2 separate regions of the Homo sapiens genome follow, and region 1 is linked to region 2. Evidence: fine-mapped expression QTL. Tissue or cell type: whole blood. Region 2 holds a variant in brackets; the other region holds the start of a gene. All regions are shown on one strand. Distances are between the middles of the regions.

The links. PIP is the estimated chance that this variant, and not a neighbour inherited with it, causes the effect.
Region 1: it holds the start of DCAF4, and the variant in region 2 is fine-mapped to the expression of DCAF4 in whole blood (INTERVAL, PIP above 0.99).

Annotation. Positions count from the first base shown.
Region 1 is chr14:72,921,584-72,929,583 of GRCh38, reverse strand. It overlaps DCAF4 (DDB1 and CUL4 associated factor 4), which reads right to left and starts at 3,120. Exons shown (of 14, transcript NM_015604.4): 1 at 3,041-3,120. It also overlaps the pseudogene RPL36P3. RefSeq lists enhancers at 1,546-2,410, 3,082-3,351, 3,642-3,741, 4,142-5,008 and a silencer at 2,852-2,911.
Region 2 is chr14:73,152,714-73,160,713 of GRCh38, reverse strand. The region is part of intron 3 of PSEN1 (presenilin 1); the gene reads right to left. Among named protein-coding and RNA genes, the nearest start is that of PSEN1, 20 kb to the right of the region's middle. The variant G/A (reference allele first, on the strand shown) is at 3,588.

The sequences.
Region 1 (8,000 bases), 230 kb after region 2:
AAAGAACAGCTTGACGGAAAAATAAAATAAAAATAAAAAATATTTTTGTAGAGACGGGGTCTCGCTTTGTTGCCGCCCAGGCTGGTCTCGAATTTCTGGCCTCCAGCGATCCTCCTGCCTTGGCGCAGCGTTGGGATGACAGGCGTGAGCCACCACGCGCGGCAGCAAATCTGAGATTTAACACAGAGAGCCAGTATGTGCCCAGCGTATGTGTATGTAGTGCACAGAATATGTGGACCACCCTCTATAAAGGTTCATGCATGAGGAGGTCGGCTCTCTCTCACAGTCTAGCAGTTTTCCACACAAAAGCGGCACACATTTTTGCACCGGTCTCCAAAATGGTGTCTGGTTTGGGAGCCCGCAGCTTCCGGAATTACAGGCTCTTTCCTGCTTCCAGGGCACCATTCCAGGCCTGGCCTCAATAGGCCCAAGGCGCAGGCCCAGAGGAGGCCGGGCGGGGTGGGGGGCGGGGTGCGCTACACCCAGTAGGGAGCAGCCCCGGGCGTCCGTGCCGCCCGCAGTGCTGGGACGCCCAACACCGACCAGCCCCGGAGCCAAGTGTGGGGGATGGCAGCCCGCACACATCGGGGCTGGCCTCGCCTCCCCTGGGAGGTAGGCTTGACAGCACAGGGGGTCGGTCCAGCCTTAGCACGGGGCCAAAACTCAGAATGGGGGAGGGGCTCCATCTCCCCTTGGGGCTCTCCAGTTTGGGGGCCTCGGGGCTGTTCTGGTTTCCAGGCTGAGCCTCACCATCTTGTTTAGCACATGGTTAGGGGGCCTGGACTGGAGCCCAACAACCGGGGCTCTGAGACTGGGGCACCCTGGGGCCGCGGGGTTGCTTCTTGGGTGGATGAGAATGTTCCAGAATTAGACAGTGGTGATGGTTGCACAATCTTGCCAATATAATAATAAAAAAACCCACTGGATTGAACCCTTTTAAAAAAGTTAATTTTAGGGTATGTGAACTATATATATATATATATATATATATATATATAAAGGATGTTTACTACACCATGCTGTAATAGTTAAAGTGAGAAACATCCTAGATATCCAACAACAGGGGAATTTTGTAAGAGTCTGTAGACTGGCCGGGCGCGGTGGCTCATGCCTGTAATCCCAGCACTTTGGGAGGCCGAGGCGGGCGGATCACGAGGTCGGCAGATATGTGAGACCATCCTGGCCAACATGGTGAAAACCTGTCTCTACTAAAATACAAAAAGTTAGCCGGGCGCGGTGGCGTGCGCCCGTAGTCTCAGCTACTCGGGAGGCTGAAGCAGGAGAATCCCTTAAACCTGGGAGGCGGAGGTTGCGGTGAGCCGAGATCGCGCCACTGTGCTCCAGCCTGGGCAACAATAGTGAAATTCCGTATCAAAAAAAAAAAAAAAAAAAAAAAGTGGGGGGATTCTGTAGACTAGCGGGCTGTAATGTGCAAAACGCTAACGCCACTGGTCTGTAAAGCTGAATACAAAGTAGCTTCTACAGGCCAGGGCGGTGGCTCACGCCTCTAATCCCAGCACTTTGGGAGGCTGAGGTGGGAGGATAGCTTGAGCCCAGGAGTTCAAGACCAGCCTGGGCAACATAGTGAGACACCCCTCCGCCCCATCTTAACAAATAATTTAAAAATTAGCCGGGTGTGGTGGTGCATGCCTATAATCCCAGCAGTTAGGAGTTGTTCACTGTAAAACAACATTTTAGACAGCTGACTTAAAAAACAACAAAATTTTCTCTTAACACTTATTTAAGAAATACTTCAGGCGCAAGCTTTGTACTAACGCCCACCCTGAGTTGGTATTTTCAATCCTATTTTACAAATGAGGAAACAGGCTTACAGGACTAGGTACCACACCCAGCGTAAGTTAAATGGTGGAACAGGGATTCCACCTCTGTTGGTAGGACCCCCAGGCCTGGTTACCCACAGAACACCACCTCAGGCCGGGCGCGGTGGCTCACGCCTGTAATCCCAGCACTTTGGGAGGCCGAGGCGGGCGGATCACGAGGTCAGGAGATCGAGACCATCCTGGCTAACACGGTGAAACCCCGTCTCTACTAAAAATACAAAAAATTAGCCGGGCGAGGTGGTGGTCGCCTGTAGCCCCAGCTACGCGGGAAGCTGAGGCAGGAGAATGGCGTGAACCCCGGGGGCGGAGGCTGCAGTGAGTCGAGATCGTGCCACTGCACTCCAGCCTGGGCGACAGCGAGACTCCGCCTCAAAAAAAAAAAAAAAAAAAAAAAAAAAAGAACACCACCGCGACTCTAATTTCCATCGTTATTTAAAATCAGAGTTTGGGACTTTGGAATTGTTTCCTCTAGGAAGCCGTCCCCTCAGTTTTCTTTGCTTCTGGCTGCGCTGCTGGAGTCACAAGACAATGCCTGTAGAACACCATGGTGAAAGGCGTCATGGTTTCTGAAGCCCCCGGGGAGCCCACGAGGCGTGGCTTTCTCGCTAACTCACAACTCAGAGTGGAGGCGAGGGCCAAACCCAGGCCCCATCACTTGCTAGTTGTGCGCTACCCCGACGGACAACCAAACTGCACCCCTTTCTGCGTCTGACAAGGACATCATAGCGCTGGCAAATGTTAGCGCCTGTGAAGCCGGCAGCACAGAGCCGGCCACTTCGTAAGCTTCAACCACACCTAACCTGTTATGCTGACCTGAACATTCACAGGGGACACCGCCCCAAGGCCCGCAGCCCAGCCCCCGCCAGGTGTCGGGTGGGGCCTTCAGCAGCAGGTCTCAGAGAAGCGCTTAGAGAAACGCCCTCAGCGGCGACACTCGGGGTGCCCTCCCTGCGTGTTTACGGTTGCAGCACTGATCCGGCCGGAGGGCCCCACGCGCCCCAGAACGGGCGGAGCGCGCCGGCCCAGCTGCCACCTAGGCCCGGTGGCGCCGGCGTTCCACGTGCTCACTCCTCCCCGCCCCTCCCCGCCCCTTTCCCTGGCCTTCCTCGCCGCGCCTGTCTCCCACCCCGAGCTCTGCAGCGGGAGCGCGGCAGCCCTCGAATCGATGCCAGTAGGCACCCCAGGCAGCACAGTCTTACCTGTTCAGCGTGTCCCTTCCGGATTCCCCTCCGGCTCAGCTCTGCAGGAGTTGGAGCGAAGCGTGCAAGGACCCGGAAAGACCAAGGTGTAGCGTCAGCCAGTTAGGTGGATGCGTTTTGGTGTTGTAGCAGCCGATAGGGCTATAGCGGCCGTTCTTTCCTTCTCACTGGACGCGGCTTCTGTCTGTCGACGTCAATAGGGACGATCTCATGAAGAAGGCGGGGAGTGGGGCTTCGGCTCCTCCCAGGCCTGGCCTGTCTGGGGCGGATGCACGTGGAGGCTGGTCATGGAGCGCTTGGGGGTGGGGCCAGGCGCACGCGGGGGCGGGGCCGGGGGCTGCTCCCGGAGCAGCGGAACTGTCTGGAGACCCTTTCGTGAGAGACCGTGTCTTCCTCCCTCCGCAGGGTGATGCGGCCCTGGAGAAGTCCTCTCGCTGTAGTGGAAAGAGCGAAGGAGTCTGTGAGGCGAGGGACAGAAGTAACGTGATGTTACGACTGGCGGCGAAGTCTTCGGCAGTGGCCTCAGGCGGCCGAGGCCGCTGCCCTGGGTCTGCGTTCAGGGTGTAGCGTAGCGAGCCCTGACCGTGAAACCGGGGGGCCTCCGTGTTGGCTCCAGTACTGCTGCTTGCTGTGGGACCTAGGGCGAGTCTCTTCCCTTCTCTGTGCCTTGATTTCTTCTGTTGAGAGAAGGAATCGGATCTATCATTCTCATGTCCTCTCCAGCTTAGAGTTTGTTCAGACCACCAATATTTCTAGAATGACCTATGTGTGCTGTGCCTGTCCCAGGTATCAGCTGACGGTTATGAGATCTTATGAAAGGAAAACGGAAGCCTCTGATGGGCTTGTGTCCCGAAGAGACAGTTTGTGAGGACAGCTGGATTCACAGAGGCTAGGCTTGTTGGGGTCCAGCAGTAGGCCTGGTGTGTCATGCGGCTCCGTAACACAGGCCCCTGCCCGCGGCTTGGACCCGTTAGAAAGCAGGCGGTGGGGTTCACCCATTGCACGCCGTGCGAAGGCATTTCAGCTCTTAACCAGGAAGCTAGGATTTCAGGCTAAACTCCTGGCTCTCAGGAGTTTATAGATAAATGCAGTATGTGGAGCGGGGCCGGGTGATGAGGGAAATGAGAGAAGTGGGCATAGTCAGAATAAAGAACCGCTTCATGAAGCTTGAGCGGCCTTGAAGAGAAGGCAGAGAAAAATTCTAGCTGAACAAACAACGTGACTGGAGGCCGGTTCAAGCCGGCTGGATGGGAGGGGAGTCTTGGAAGGAAAACTCAGCAGGGTGGGTTGGGGCTTGGTGACGCAGCAATTGCCAGGGAAAGAGTAGTCAGGCCGGGTGCAGTGGCTCACGCCTGAAATCCCAGCACATTGGGAGGTTGAGGCGGGTGGATCACTTGAGGCTAGGAGTTCCAGACCAGCCTGGCCAACATGGCGAAACCCCCAACTCTACTAAAAATACAAAAAATTAGCCGGGCGTGGTGGCGGGCGCCTGTAATCCCAGCTACTCAGGAGGCTGAGGCAGGAGAATTGCTTGAACCCGGGAGGCGGGGGTTGCAGTGAGCCGAGATAGCGCCATTGCACTCCAGCCTGGGTGACAGAGTGAGACCCTGTCTCAAGAAAAAAAAAAGTAGACAATGGGAGGCTCTGAGGGTTCTAGAGTTGGGAAGTGACAGGACTAGAGCTGTGCTTCTGGGAAATCACCGTGTAGGGGGTTGGGGAGAAAAGATTGTGGAAGTCAGCTGGGAGACCCCTAAGGAACTTATTGCAGCAACAGTCCTTGTGAAAGGTAGTGAGGGCCAAACCAGGGTGGGGGTAGCCAGGATGGAAGGGGGGTACAGATGGGAGGCAGAATTCAGAGGGAGAATCGGCCAGACTTAACTCTCGGGGAGGAGTCAAGCTGGATTTTCCACTGAAGAGCCAGGGGACACTTGAGGAAGGTGGCAGGAGGAGTTGGCTTGGGCTTGCTGAGTCAATGAGTGGCTGGCAGCCGGCCAGCAGGCTCTGTTGAATGTCCACAGAGGGGACAGTGACGTGGGCATGAGATATACCTCGGGGACCTGCAACACACACAGATGAAAGATTAAAGAATGTTTGCAAATCAGTGAACAAATGAAGCTTGCTGGGCCTTGGGCAAGTCATGAGGCATTCCAACCTCAGTTTCTTCACAGATTAGAATGAGGATAAGACATCTACTGAGAAAGGTTGTAAGGAGTAAGCGCTGATGATGGAGTACCTCACCCAGGACTTGGTGCACAGCGCCCATTGGTTAAGCACCCGCGATTATAAAGGTAGCATGGTATCTAGATGGTGTATATTACCTTCAAAAGTAAAAATTATTTTTTCATTTCATCTCCAGAATTTGAAGCCAAGGCAAATGTTGTAATGAAAAGGAATGAATCTATAGAAAGAGGTTGGAAAATATCTGGCACATGGCAAAGACTAAAACAATATATATATATTTTTTGTCTGTTTTGAGATGGAGTCTCACTCTGTTGCCAGGCTGGAGTACAGTGGCGTGATCTCGGCTCACTGCAACCTCTGCCTCCCAGGTTCAAGCTATTCTCCTGCCTCAGCCTCCCAAGTAGCTGAGATTACAGGCGCCCTCCACCATGCCTGGCTAATTTTTTGTATTTTTAGTAGAGATGGGCTTTTGCCATGTTGGCCAGGCTGGTCTTGAAATCCTGACCTCAGGTGATCTGCCCGCCTTGGCCTCCCAAAGTGCTGGGATTACAGGCGTGAACCACTGCACCCGGCCTTCAAATACTAGATCTTATTCATTCTTTCAAACTATGTTTTTGTACCCATTAGCCATCCCCACATCCTCCCATCCCCCAAAATATAAAATTTAAATGTTAATTTAAACAAATCAACATTTGTTTAAATCAACTGCAGAAGTTGTCCTTTTAAAAAAAGAAAAAACAGGCTGGGCGTGGTGGGTCATGCCTGTAATCCCAGCACTTTGGGAGGGAGAGGTGGGTGGATCATGAGGTCAGGAGATCGAGACCATCCTGGCTAACATGGTGAAACCCCATCTCTACTAAAAATACAAAAAATTAGCCAGGCGTGGTGGCGGGCGCCTGTAGTCCCAGCTACTCGGGAGGCTGAGGCAGGAGAATGGCGTGAACCCAGGAGGCGGAGCTTTCAGTGAGCAGAGATCGTGCCACTGCACTTCAGCCTGGGCAACAGAGCAAGACTCCATCTCAAAAATAAAAAAAAAAAAAATAAAAAAACACTTTTTTTTCTTATAGAGATAGGGTCTTACTATATTGCCCAGCCTGGTCTCAAACTCCTGGGCTCAAGTGATCCTCCTGCCTCAGCCTCCTGAAGTATTGGAATTACAGGCGTGAACCACTGCACCCAGCAGGAGTTGGCTATTTTAAGAGGTGACTTGTACGTAAGTTGCCACAGGAACTAGGATGCCTGTCAAATCACATCATGGAGACTAATCCAAAATAAAATCAATGCAAGAGAAATGTAATTAAATTAACATGCCCATTGTGGGGTAACAGTCCATCCAGGGCCTAGAAAAAGGATCATTTTCATCAGAATTTCTCAGTGTTTTTTCAGTAGTATCCAAGTGAGTGTCTTGGTCACTGAAAATCTTAATCTTTTTTTTTTTTGAGATGGAGTTTTGCTCTTGTTGCCCAAGCTGGAGTGCAATGGCATGATCTTGGCTCACTGCAACCTTCGCCTCCTGAGTTCAAGTGATTCTCCTGCCTCAGCCTCCCGAGTAGCTGGGACTACAGGCATGTGCCACCACGCCCGGCTAATTTTGTGTTTTTAGTAGAGATGGGGTTTCTCCATGTTGGTCAGGCTGGTCTCGAACTCCCAAACTCAGGTGATCCGCCCGCCTCAGCCTCCCAAAGTGCTGGGATTACAAGCGTGAGCCACTGCATCTGGCTGGTCACTGAAAATCTTGATATAGAACAATTCCCTAGTTCATTTCCTTTTTTTTTTTTTTGAGATGGAGTCTTGCTCTGTTGCCCAGGCTGGAGTGCAATGGCGCCGTCTCGGCTCACTGCAACCTCTGCTTGCTGGGTTCAAGTAATTCTCCTGCCTCAGCCTCCCGAATAGCTGGGATTACAGGCTCCCGCCACCACGCCCAGCTAATTTTTGTATTTTTAGTACAGCCAGAGTTTCACCATGTTAGTCAGGCTGGTCTTGAACTCCTGACCTCAGGTGATCCACCCGCCTTGGCCTCCCAAAGTGCTGGAATTACAGGCGTGAACCATCGCGCCCTAGCCTCTAGTTCCTTTGCTAACCTAATGAAATACCCAACAAAATTCTCTACACCTCTTTGTATGATTACGTATTCACCAAACTGCTGATGACTGACTCCATTATCATGATTTTGGAAAAGAGGGAGCCGTGGGTAATGGGCAAGAATATTCTAGACATCAGGAAGTTACATGTCTCAATAATTAACTGATCATATTCGTATTCTGTGTACTTGGGTAGACAAGCAGTTTCCAAGGATCTGGTCCCAATAACTTAATACACAAAATGTTGAAACCCATAAATCTGGGGACAAGATTTTGCCTCTAAAATACTAGTCTTAGCTGGTTAGCAGCCTGACCAATATAACAGTTAATAATGCATAATAATCTAAGAAAACTTGAGAAGCAGAAAAGCACAAAGTGAAAAAATACCCAAATTACCTGTGATAAATCTATCCCTCCAAAAAAACCACTGTTAATATTTGGATGTGTTTTTTCTAAGCATGTGTTTGTTCTAACTGTTTATATCTTTCAGTTATTAATTCAACAAATATTTATTGAGCACTTGGAATGCCAGATCTGTTCTAGGTGCTGGGAATGTAAGTACATTTTAAGAAAATTGTTTTTGAAAACAATCACAAACTAATAGAAAACTTCCAACTACAGAATTTTTCTTTTTCTTTTCCTGAGGGTAACCACTGACTTGATGTGTCATCAGTCTGGAATACTTTTAGTTTGTATTT
Region 2 (8,000 bases):
TACAAATAGCCAACAAGCACATGAAAAGATGCTCTACATCTGTGTAATATGGGGGGAAAAAAGAAAAGATGCTCAACATCACTAATCATTAGAAAAATGCAAAAAAAAACTACACCCGTTAGGATGGCCACTACCAAAAAACAGAAAGTAACAAGCGGTGGTAAAGTTGTGAAGAAATTGGAACCACTATGCATTGTTGGTGGGAATGTAAAATGGTGCAGCCACCATGGAAAACAATATGGAGGTTCCTCAAAAAATTAAACTACCATATGACCCAGCAATCCCATTTATATAAATACCAATGAGTATATATAAAAACGAACTGAATTACAAACAAGACCTCAAACAGATATGTGCATAGCCACTTTCACCATAGCATTATTCAGTATAGCCACGAAGTGGAAGTAACCCAAATGTCTACTCACAGATATGTGGTATATACATAACACAGAATATTATTCAGCCCTTAAAAAGGAAATCTTGTCACATGCTACAATATAGATGAACCTTGAGGACATTATGCTAAGCAAAATAAGCAAGTCACTAAAAGAGAAATAATGTATGATTCCACTTACATGAAATATCTAGCCAGCTGGGCATGATGGCTCACACCCATAATCTCTGTATTTTGGGAGGCCAAAGTGGGAGGATTACTTGAGCCCAGGAGTTTGAGATCAGCCTGGCCAATATGGCGAGAACTCGTCTCTACAAAAAAATTAAAAAATTAGCGAGGCATGATAGAGTGCACCTGTAGTTCCAGTTACTCAGGAGGCTGAGGTGGGAAGACAGCTTGAGCCCAGGAGGTGAAGGCTGCCATGAGCCAAGATCATGCCACTGCACTCTAGCCTGGGCAACGGAGTGAGATCTTGTCATCAAAAAAAAGAAAAAAACTCAAGTAGTCCATGTTATAGAAACAGAAAGCATATTGCCACGGGCTGAGAGAAATGGAAAATGGGGAGTTGTTCAATGGGTATAAAGTTGTCCAATGAGTATAGAGTTTCAGTTTTTCAAATTCAAAAGCCTCCCCATGAGAACAGCCTTTGACCCATGACTGATGGAACAGATTGACACATATATGGACAACTGATTTTTGCAAAGGTACAAAGGCACTTCAGTGGAGAAAATAGTCTTTTTTAAAAAACAGTGCTGAAACAATTGAATATCCATATGCAGAAAAATGAACTTTGATCCATACCTTGGACCACGTATAACAATCAACTTCAAAAGGATCACAGACCTAATGTAAAACATGAAACTATAAAGCTTCCAGAAGAAAATGCAGGAAAAAACTCCTGAGAACTTGAAGTAGGCCAAAGTTTCTTAAGATGTGACACCAAAAACACAATCAATGAAATACAAACGGAATTAGCTGGGTGCAGTGGCACACATCTGTAGTCCTAGCTGTTTGGAAGAATGAGGCAGAAGAATTCTTTGAGCTCAGGAGTTTGAGGCTGCAGTGAGCTATAATCACACCACTATACTCCAGCCTGGGTGACAGGGCAAGACTCTGTCTCTTTAAAAAAAAAAAAAAAAATCTGCCCTTCAAAAAGCACTGTTAATAAAAAGAAAAGCCACAGTCTGGGAGAAAACACTTGCAAATTATATATATTACAGAGGACTTGTATCCAGACTATGTAAATAATTCTTAAAATCCATTAAGAAAGCAATTTTTAAATGGGCAAGAGATTTGAACAGACAAGTCACCAAAGATATCAGGATGACAAGCACATGAAAAGAAACTCAACATCATTACTCAATAGAGAAATGTAAATTAAAACCAAAATGAGATGTAACTATATACCTTTTTATAAGAGCTAAAAAATTTAAAAGACTGACAGTATCAAGTACTGACAGGATGTGGAGGAACTGGAACTCATACTGCTGGTAGAAATGTAAAATTATACAACCAGTTTGGAAAGTTCTTTGGTAGTACCTTAAAAAGTTAAATATAAGGCTGGGCATAGAGGCTCATGCCTATAATCCCAGCACTTTGGGAAGCCAAGGCGGGAGGATCACTTGAGGCCTGGAGTTCAAGATCAGCCTGTGAAACATAGGAAGACTCCATCTTCTATAAAAAATATAAATAAAAACTGGCCAGGTGTGATGGCTCACGCCTGTAATCCCAACACTTTGGGGGGCCGAGGCAGATCACTTGAGATCAGTAGTTCAAGACCAGCCTGGCCAACATGAAGAAACCTAGCCTCTACTACAAATACAAAAATTAGCTGGGTGTGGTGGCAGGCGCCTGTAATCCCAGCTACTGGGGAGGCTGGGACAGGAGAATCACTTGAACCCAGGAGGCAGAGGTTGCAGTGAGCCAAGATCATGCCACTGCACTCCAGCCTTTGCTCCAGATGGAGCAAAACTCCGTCTTAAAAATAGATAGATAGATAGATAGATAGATAGATAGATAGATAGATAGATAGATAGAAAAAAAAGTTAAATATACACCTACCATATTGGATCATATTCTACTCCTAGGTATTTGCCCAAGATAAATTAAAGCATATGCCCATACAAAGAAAGATCTGTACATGAATATCCGTAACAGCCACTATCTGTAATGCTTCAGAACTGAAAATCCAAATATCTACCAACAAGTAAATAGATCAAAAACTGTGGTATACAACTCAGCAATAAAAAGGAACCACATAACATGGACGAATTTCAAAATAATTATGCTGAAAGAAAGAAGCCAGACAAGAGTCTGTATGTTTTGTTTTTTTTTTAGACAGAGACTCACTCTGTTGCCCAGGCTGGAGTGCAGTGGCACAATCTCAGCTCACTGCAACCTCTGCCTCCTGGGTTCAAGCAATCCTCATGTCTCAGCCTCCTGAGGAGCTGAGATTACAGGTGCACGCCACCACCCCTGGCTAATTTTTGCATTTTTAATAGAGAAGGGGTTTCATGTTGGCCAGGTGGCCTCAAGTCATCGCCCACCTCGACCTCCCAAAGTGCTGGGATTACAGGCATGAGCCACCGTGCCCGGCCTGTATGATACTATTTATATAAAATAGTATCATAATAGTAAATGGCTGCGCGCGGTGACAAAACATGGTTGCCTGGGGATGGGGAGGAATCAGGGAGGAGAAGGAGAGATTACAACAAAACATGAAGAAACTTCTGGAGGTAATGGACATTTTCATTATTTTAACTGTGGTGGTGGTTTCAAGAGTATACATATATATCAAAACATCACACTGTATACTTTAAGTATGTACATTTTACGTCAATTATACCACAATAAAGCTGTTTTTAAAAATGTATCTTTCTTGGGCTGGGCGTGGTGACTCACGCCTGTAATCCCAGCACTTTGGGAGATCGAGGCAGGCGGATCATCTGAAGTCAGAAGTTTGAGCCCAGCCTGGCCAACACGGTGAAACCCCATCTGTACTTAAAAAAAAAAAAGTATACAAAAAAATTAGCTGGGTGTGGTGGTGCGTGCCTGTAATCCCAGCTACTCAGGAGGCTGAGGCAGGAGAATCGCTTGAACCCAGGAGGCAGACGTTGCAGTGAGCCAAGATCATGCCACTGCACTCCAGCCTGGGCAACAAAAGAGTGAAACTCCCTCGCAAAAAAAAAAAAAG[G/A]TATCTTTCTCAAGGGAGTGTGTAGGTGCTTTGAAAAGTGTCAAATGAGAGGAAAGTGGTACTAGAATACTGAGGGATTTCCGAAAGGAAAAATCTTGGTAGCTAAATATGAGAATGATGACTTAAGCATGCATGGTATTACCTGTAAGACCATTTTAAAAAAAAGGCCAGGCGTGGTGGCTCATGCCTGTAATCCCAGCACTTTGGGAGTCCCAGGCGGGCGGATCACAAGGTCAGGAGATCGAGATCATCCTGGCTAACACAGTGAAACCCCATCTCTACTAAAATTACAAAAAATTAGCTGGGCATGGTGGCGGACGCCTGTAGTCGCAGCTACTCTGGAGGCTGAGGCAGGAGAATGGCGTGAACCTGGGAGGCGGAGCTTGCAGTGAGCCGAGATCATGCCACTGCACTCCAGCCTGGGTGACAGAGCAAGACTCCATCTCAAAAAAAAAAACAAACAAAACTTTTTATTATGGAAAAAGTTCAAACAAATACTGTCAGAAATGTACAATGAAGCCCATGTGCAATTTATTCAACTTCAATAATTATGAACTCATGCTAATCTTGTTTCATCTACTCCCCCGCTCACTTTGCCACTCCAGTATTATTTTGAGGCAAATCTTAGATATATCATTTCCTTCATAAATATTTTAGTATGTATTTCTAAAAGATAGGAACTTGAAGCCTTTTGCATTTGTGGCTTGATAGCTCTTTTCTTTCAAAATATTATTTTTATTTATATTATTTATTTTATTATTATTATTTTTTGAGACCGAGTCTGGCTGTGTTGCCCAGGCTGGAGTGCAGTGGCATGATCACTGCTCACTGCAACTTCCACTTCACAGGCTCAAGTCATCCTCCGACCTCAGCCTCCCAAGTACCTGGGACTATAGGCACATGCCACCACACCCAGTTAATTACTATTAGTATTATTTACTTTTTTTTTTATTTCATAGAGATGGGGTTTCACCATGTTGCCCAGGCTGGTCTCAAACTCCTGAACTCAAGTGATCCACCCGCCTCAGCCTTCCAAAGTGCTAGGATTACAAGTATGAGCCACCAAGCCATAAAATATTTTTAAATGCAAACTTAGATCCACAGCAAAACTGAGCAGAAAGTACACAGAGTTCCCACATAACCCCTCCAACAGCCTCTATCAACATCCTGCACCACTGTGGTAAACCGTTACAACAGATGAACCTACATTGACAGTCCACAGTTTACCTTAGGGTTCACTTTTTGGTGTTATACAGTCTATGGGTTTGTATAAACAGATAATGACAGGTTTCCATGATTACAGTATCATACAGAATAGATTCACTGCCCTAAAAAATCTGTATGCTTCAGGAGGCCGAGACGGGAGAATCGCTTGAGCCCAGGAGTTCAAGACCGGCCTGGGCAACATAACGAGACCCCAGCTCTACAAAAAAAGTGAAACTAACAGCAAAAAAAATTAGCCAGGCATGGTGGCACACACCTGTACTCCCAGCTATTCACAAGGCTGAGATGGGAGAATCACTTGAGCCCAGGACTTACAGGCTGCACTGAGCTATGATCACACCACTATACTCCAGCCTGGGTGATAGAAGGAGACCCTGTCTCAAAAAAAAAATAATAATGATAATATATATTTGATTCTATGCTAGACATATAAATATACCTCATTCTTAAATATGGCAATTTTGATAAGAAATGTTAATATTTATTGAACAAGTATGTGCTAGGTAGTGTACTAATCATTCAGTTTATCTCATTTAATTTAAATAAAACTCTAAGTTAATTGCTATAAACTTCATTTAACAGATAAAGAAACTGAAGTTTAGCGAGGCCAGTTAATTTGCCAAAGATCATAATGCTAAGAAGTTCTAGAATGGAGATTCAAAGTCCAACTGTTTAGTCAAGAGACCCTACTGTTAACTAGTACCTTTACACTACTAACTGGGTAAACCATAAGCAATTAATGATAAAGATTGAGATTACTGCCACATTCTCACTGTTATAAATAAAACTTCAATAAAAATTCTTGGCACTTCTATGGTAATATTTTTATAGGATAAACTTTCAGAAGTGAAATGCTAGGTGAGATCAGATTAGGTTAGATTTAATTGCTAAATTATTTCCAAAAGGCATGTGTATCTGTAGATTCAATTAAGAGCTTGCCTCCAAATAAATACTAACTTAACTCCAAAGAACACAGCATACAAGAAAGCCTATTTCCCTACAACCTCAGCAGCAGTGTATCAATTTTAACTCACTGATAGGTAAGAAGTGAAGTTTTAATTTTTATCCCTATTAGTAAGGCTGATCAACTAGGCTTTTCATATATTTATTGCCATTTCTATTTCTTACTCCATAAATATTGCTTGTAACCTTTGCTACTGAGTTAAGTTGTTCATGTTCCTTTTAATTTCATAAGAATTCTATGTATATTGGGATATATCTGTCATATATTTCAAGCCTTTGTCCTAGTTTGTTTTGGACTTTGTTCATGGCAGTTTTTGCCACACATTTTTTTCTTTTTTTGAGGCAGGGTCTCACTTTGCTGCCCAGGTTGAAGTGCAGTGGCATGATTACAGCTCACTGCAGCCTCGACCTCCTAGTCTCAAGCAATCCTCCTGCCTCAGCTTCCCAAGTAGCTGGGACCATAGAAGCACACTACCACACCCCACTAATTTTCACTTTTTTTTTTGTAGAGACAAGATCGTGCTATGTTACCCAAGCTAGTCTCAAACTCCTGGCCTCAAGGGATCCTCCTGCCTCAGCCTCCCAAAGTACTAGGAATACAGACATGAGCCACCACACCTAGCTCTGCAATTAAGTTTATAATTGTGTGTAGTTGAATATGAATTTAGGTAATTTTATAAAGAAAACAGAAACTTATTTTTACGACACCCCAAATGCTAACGTTTTTCAATATATACACACAGGTATACATAGTTGTGTTTACAAATATTATATTCTGCCCTTTTCCCTTAATATTTCATGCACGCATGTAAGCAGTTAACATGCCTACGTGGTTATAATGTATTCAATTATGCTGATATATTTATAGTCTGAATATTTACTTAAAATACATTTTTTCAATAATTAATATTTGTAAGAAAATGTATTGGCAGGCACGGTGGTTCATGCCTGTAATCCCAACACTTTGAGAGGCCTAGGTGGTCAGATCACTTGAGGTCAGGAGTTCGAGACCAGCCTGACCAACATGGTGAAACCCCATCTCTATCTAAAATACTAAAATTAGCCAGGTGTGGTGGCACAACCCTGTTAATCCCAACTACTCGGGAGACTAAGGCAGGAGAATCGCTTGAACCTGGGAGGCAGAGGCTGCAGTGAGCCGAGATCGCACAACTGAACTCCAGCCTGGGCGACAGAGGGAGGCTCCGTTTCAAAAAAAAAAAAAAAAGGAAAGAAAATGTATTAATCCTTTAAGACTTAATGGGCAAAAAAAAAAAAAATGACTTAATGGATATTGTTTGAATTTCTACAATGACAAATGTGGGGCTCTAAGCCTGCTCTGTAGGACAGGACTAGAAGAGTGGCTTAACCAAAGAACTGGCAAGTTAAGTGGAAAACTTGAAAACATTTATTAATCATAGGGAACATGCTTCCAACAACACACATAATTCCATTCAGCATCTGACCAAGCTTTGTGATTCCCTGGAGTCAGAGGTTTAACCATTCCTCTAATGCCAAGAAAGGCTGTCATTTCCACAAACAGTTGACATAACTGGTTAGAGATAATACTGAACACTTATGGGGCTGTTATGTTAGGCTTAAGCCTAAAGTTTCTTAACATATTATTAATATTTGTGCCTAAGAGATTTTACTCATGCAAAAGCTAGCATGTTTCTCTGGAGGTCGTTGAGATTTCAAGTTCTTTTTTGCCTTACTCCACTTTAACACAACTGAGAAAACAAATTCATAACTATAATGATACAACAACACTGTCAAAGGCTAACCAGAGCTGCAGATTCTATTTAAATTTAGATCACCCATTTCATTTATTTTTTTTCTCCTCAAGGTCCTTTAAATAGCTCATAGGTTTGCTTTTTGTCTATGTATTTATTTGAGACAGGGTATCACTTTGTCACCTAGGCTGGAGTACAATGGTGTGATCTTGGCTGAATGCAGCTTTGACCTCCCAGGTGAACCTTGAAACCAATCCTCTTGCTTCAGCCTCCCAGGTAGCTGGGATTACAAGGGCGCACCACCACACCTGGCTAATTTTTGTATTTTTAATAGAGACAGGGTTTCACCGTGATGGCCAGGCTGGTCTGGAACTCCTGGCCTCAAGTAATCCACCCACCTTGGCCTCCCAAAGTGCTGGGATTACAGGCGTGAGCCACCATGCCCAGCGAATATTTCTTTTTTCAAATGGAGACTAAGAAACATAACTGAAGCTAT